2 separate regions of the Homo sapiens genome follow, and region 2 is linked to region 1. The links come from fine-mapping of genetic effects on gene expression. A gene starts in region 1. The other region holds a variant in brackets. All regions are shown on one strand. Distances are between the middles of the regions.

Region 1 (3,019 bases):
TGGTCATGTTTGAAGATTGTCTTGCACAGTGTGGAGTACACAGAAGGAGCTCAATAATGTTCACTGACTGAATGACTGAATAAGAGCTGACTGGCTACAGCAGAGGTCAGGGATGCAAGAGGACGGTGACTTGCACAGAGGCCTGTCCTGTTCCAGTTCAACTCCAGGGGGGCACTTAGTGAAAGGAAGGAAATGGCCCTGTTTGGACATGCCATGGGGTGAAACCAGGGTCCAGGCCATTCACTGGAGCAGGAAAGTTCCAGGAAAGCTGGGGCCACTTCTGGGTCTGACCAAAATGCTCTGCTTTGCCCTGAAGATCAGACCAGATTCCAGAGCTGCCGTGATCAGGCTTTGTCCCAAGAGGCACTCAGGAATACCCCTGGCCTTGGTATAGGGAGGCCTTCCAGATCAGAGATGGCCTATGGGCAGGGGAAATACCCTAAGGCCCATCTATCCTGGACTGAAAATTCCCTTGAAGTAAGTAGAGTTATTAACATGATTTCATAAGAAGGAACTGCAGCTTAAAGAGTGCACTAATTTCACACTTGTAATCTCAGCACTTTGGGAGGCCGAGGTGGACAGATCACCTGAGGTCAAGAGTTTGAGACCAGCCTGACCAACATGGAGAAACCCTGTCTCTACTAAAAATACAAAATTAGCCGGGTGTGGTGGCGTATGCCTGTAATCCCAGCTACTCAGGAGGCTGAGGCAGGAAAATCACTTGAACCCGGGAGGCAGAGGTTGTGGTGAGCTGAGATCGCACCATTGCACTCCAGCCTGGGCAACCAGAGCAAAACTCTGTCTCAAAACAAAAAAAAAAAAAACAAAAAAACACAAAAAACACTAATTTGCCCAAGGCCTCTCAACTAGAAGCCACTAAGCTGGGACATGAATTCCTGTTGCCATTCTCTTAACTACTATATGATACTGCTTCCCTCACTTAATGGCCCTAGCCTCAATTTCCTTTTCTATAAGACCAGAACTGTCAATGGCTCCTAGCCCACAGGTGTTTGTGAAAATTAAATGGCATAGCATATGTCAGGTCCTGGCACCCAGCAAGCACGCAGGAGGCACCGGTGTTTGGCAGGCGTCGCTTCTCCTTCCTTAGTCTCGGATTCCCGTTTCAGGCATGCAGCTCTTACCCCAGGGATGACTGGCATTTGAAAGGACTTTCAATGATCCTGATGAAATCCTGCAGTAAACGACTCAGACCCATGAAAAAAATGCCCTGTGAGCTTGGACAAGTTCCTCCACCCCCTGGGCCTGTTTTGTCCGTGGTAGGATGTCCTCTGTTTACCTGGAAGAGTTACGGGTAGATTAAAGGAGAGAGGGAAGAACGGAGCCAGCCCAGGCTTGCTACAGAACAGGCTGGTGAGAGCTGCAGCATCTCTGTGCTCTGTGATCACGGCAAGGTGGGAGGAATTCTAGTTTCATTTAACTAAAATAGAGAATTAGGAAGATTATTTTCCACAGCAACTAAAAATGAGAGACTGTTGAAAGAACTTGCACTGGGTAGTCCAGAGAACCAAGTGTTTATGTGAATGCACCTGTCTAAAAATGAGGGCTTCTCAGGGATCAAGAGAAACCCAAGCCATTTCCATTTGGGGGGGGCTTCTGGTATTTTAAGGGGAAAAAACAAGATTGAAAGAATAATACGAAAGCAAGGTTGCATATATTGCTGCATGTCTTGTGTTACATTTAACAAATGTCAGTACAAAAAAACTGACCAAACATAACTCTGCTAATCATAAGGCAGTTACTAGATCTATGTAATTACAGAAATCTTAATTAGTGCACTGCAGGCAGCGTTGGCAGGTAATGGGACACAAACTGTTTTCAAGCCCCTCACGGGCCTTCTTGGAGAAAATGCCAACAGTGGCCGATGTCCGGGGTGGGGGTGGCCGTGGATGCGCCCCAGCCCCAGGCGCCACCTATCCCGGGACCAGAGCGGCGGGGCTGGATGGGGCGGGGACTGGGAGGCGGCGCGGCCCGGCCCCGGCCCCACCTGTAGATGTCCCCGGCCGGCGAGAGCGGGCGCCGGGGTTCGCTCTGAGTCGCGTGGCAGGCCGCGCTGCGTCCACCGCTGCCGAGTTCAGAGCCGCGCACCGCCCGCCGCCGCAGGTCGGGTTCCCAGCGCTACTCCCAAGACACCGCTCAGCCATGAAGATGCATTTCTGTATCCCGGTGTCCCAGCAGCGGTCCGACGCGCTGGGGGGCCGCTACGTGGTGCGCCCAGGGCTGGGGTCAGGGTGGGCAGGGAGGGGGCCGGTGGCAATGCTCACTTATCCCTCGGCTCACCAGGGACGGGGTGTCTGTGTGTTTGCAGCTGTACTCCGTGCACCTGGACGGGTTCCTCTTCTGCAGGGTGCGCTACAGCCAGCTGCACGGTTGGAACGAACAGGTGAGCAGATTGGAGGCGGGTACGAGCCCATCCACTGAGACAGGTGGAGAAAGCTGTCCCCAAAGCGCTCTGTTCCTCTGACTCTGGCAAGACACTGGGCCTTTCACGGCCTCGGGCTTCCTATTGTGAAACAGGGTCCTGGTAAGGATGAACTGAATTGCTTGGCATACAGTTGGATGAATGCATGCTGCGGCTCCTGGTCGCCTACAGCTGTGAGATGAGGGAACCGGGCGCAGGTGATTCTTCCAAGCCCCTCGCAGTTGCAGCCGGGTGATCCCCGCTAGCGCCGCCTGGCAGGGCGCTGGGGCTATGCTGGGCCCCATTTCAGTGCCCGCTGTTCCCCAGGACAATGCTTCCCTCCAAAATTTGGAAACTGGGTCTAGATCAAGGCCTAGAGTCTTTGGAGTCTTGTACATGGGTATTTAATCTCCTTTGTCTCGAGAGTTTCTTAAGTTTGCCCCCTTTAAAAAGGTGTGTCTCTAGTTTTGTTTTTGAATGGCCATGAGGCTTCAAGTACTGGCAGGCTGGGAACCAGGGAACATGACTTACCAAGCTAGGATAGTTTCTCACCCTGCTGTCTTGACAGTATTTTCTCTGGGAGGCAGACTGATTTATTAG
Region 2 (2,500 bases), 33 kb after region 1:
CAATCTCTGCACTTGTCTCTTGGGAACTTTGGGTACCATATGCTAGAAGAGCACCAAAAAAGGAAGCTGTGGATTGTTCGCTTGCTGCAATGGTGCAGCTTTAAAAAATGGTGTGGAGGCCGGGCGTGGTGGCTCAGGCCTGTAATCCCAACACTTTGGGAGGCCAAGGAGGGTGGATCACCTGAGGTCAGGAGTTTGAGACCAGCCTGGCCAACACAGTAAAACCCCGTCTCTACTAAAAATACAAAAAATTAGCTGGACGTGGTGGTGGGTGCCTGTAATCCCAGCTACTTGGGAGGCTGAGGAAGGAGAATCACTTGAACCCAGGAGGCAGAGGTTGCAGTGAGCCAAGATCACGCCATTGCACTCCAGCCTGGGCAACAGAGTGAGACTCCGCCTCCAAAAAAAAAAAAAAGGTGTGGAAATTTATTTTGCTTTTCTTTTGCTTATAGAATACATTTGACATCGCCACCAAGAAAGCTTATCTGGACATATTTCTGCCCAATGAACAGAGTATTAGAATCGAAATTATAACATCAGACACTGCTGAAAGAGTCCTAGAGGTAAGCTTTGTTTAAACTCCAGCTCCAGAACTGAATCTAGGGATGGTTCTGTTTGGAAAGCAGAGAATGGGATACGGTTACCTTCCAGGAGCTTCTGGCCTGTTGTTTTACTCTGTGGATGATTATCTGCAGAGGTACTGGCATTTGCTGGGAGAACAACCAAGGAACCTAAGATACAGCCAATCCTCCAGGGCCTCTTTGATTTCACCCTCCCTGGGGGCACCAATTTTCCAGAGATCTCCTGGAAGGCTGCTGTCACTTCCTTGGAACTTAGCCAGGGATGTGGCCTGGAAATATGTAAAATGCTTTATTACTGGATGTCCCATCGTTGGGAGCAGGAAGGAAAGTGGGGCTTGGCAGAGTCTGAAACAGGTCATACCTAGGTGTGCAGGTGACAGGGGAGTTCTTGAAGGTTCCTATTCTCCCACAGGGAAAATTCTTGAAACCAGTGCTCCATCAGGGCTAATTCTGGGTGCAGAGGGCCCAGACATGAGTTGTAGTCCACTGTCTGAGGACTAATAGGACAAGACCCAGAAGGCTTCATCCTTCTTCAGCAGCTCTGCCTCCCAGACCCCTTTTCCATCTGCTGAGTGGGGCTGCAGAGGGGACACTGTCTTCTCACACTCACATCCTGCTGCCTGGGGGCAAGCTCCCAG[G/A]CCCTTTTCCTCTGGAAGGTTTTAGCTCTAATCCTCCAGAGAAACATACAAGAGAAAAGACAAAGTTATAAACATGAAGAAGAGTCAGAAAGTTTCTAGGACCTTTCAAAGGACAGAACGTTCTTGTGCTTGGGTTATGGTGTCTGACCCTTTCTGAGCTGAGAAACGGAAGCACTCCCATTTTGGCTGCTAGCTCTTCGGGCCTGCCTTGACTTAACCTATTCCTGTATCTCCAGTCTCTCTTATATTCATCGTCTCTCCGTTTCCTCCTCTCGATCCTACATCTTGACCTTAGCTCCAGCCCTCATTGTTTCCCAGCTAGATCTCTACAGCTGCCCCTAAACTAGTCTCCCTGCTTCCAGTCTTGCTAATCTTCTGTATTGATTTCCAGCATAGTCTTTCTAAAAAGTATCAAAAGCCCTTGATGCTTGAGGGAGTTTGTACCCCAAACACAAAAACCTCAATTGCTCAGGATCTAGAAGTGGGAGACAGACTCATAAATGAAGGAGGAGTAGGAAGGCAGTGATAGAGTGGGAGCCACAGACTGCATGTGTCTGGGGCCAGGCAGGTAGCTCTGGGGTACAGCTGCAGGATCAGATATAGAACAGGAGAGAGCACCTGCCTTCCCCAAAGACATCATCATTGACTTCTTTTTTTACACACTGGGCTTGCTGACCAAACTAGACATGCCTGCAGCTGAAGCCAGTGGTGGTGGTGATAGTTTGGGGTCTCCTATCTTCTGGGTTTAGGATGAGTCCTGGATTCAAATTACAGTCATGTGCCACATAATAATGACGTTTCGGTCAACATTGGACTGCATATACAATGGTGGTCCCATAAGTTTATGATACAATATTTTACTGTACTTTCTCTATGTCTAGATATGTTTTGGCCAGGCACTGTGGCTCACGCCTGTAATCCCAGCACTTTGGGAGGCCAAGGTGGGCGGATCACGAGGTCAGGAGATCGAGACCATTCTGGCTAACACAGTGAGACCACATCTCTACTGAAAAATACAAAAAAAAAATTAGCCGGGCGTGGTGGCGGGTGCCTGTAGTCCCAGCTACTCAGGAGGCTGAGGCAGGAGAATGGCGTGAACCCGGGAGGCGGAGCTTGCAGTGAGCCGAGATCGCGCCACTGCACTCCAGCCTGGGCGACAGAGCAAGACTCCGTCTCCAAAAATAATAATAATAATAACAATAGATATGTTTAGATACACCAATACTTACCAGCATGTTACAGTTGCCTAGAGTATTTAGTACAGTAACATGCCTACTATAC

The links. PIP is the estimated chance that this variant, and not a neighbour inherited with it, causes the effect.
Region 2: its variant is fine-mapped to the expression of SNX31 in tibial nerve (GTEx, PIP above 0.99). The same link has a PIP of 0.9 or more in esophagus muscle, skeletal muscle, stomach and visceral fat.

Annotation. Positions count from the first base shown.
Region 1 is chr8:100,648,656-100,651,674 of GRCh38, reverse strand. SNX31 (sorting nexin 31) reads left to right here and starts at 2,010. Exons shown (of 14, transcript NM_152628.4): 1 at 2,010-2,226; 2 at 2,327-2,401. The coding sequence starts at 2,161.
Region 2 is chr8:100,615,683-100,618,182 of GRCh38, reverse strand. SNX31 (sorting nexin 31) reads left to right here. Exons shown (of 14, transcript NM_152628.4): 5 at 453-563. Among named protein-coding and RNA genes, the nearest start is that of SNX31, 33 kb to the left of the region's middle. The variant G/A (reference allele first, on the strand shown) is at 1,220.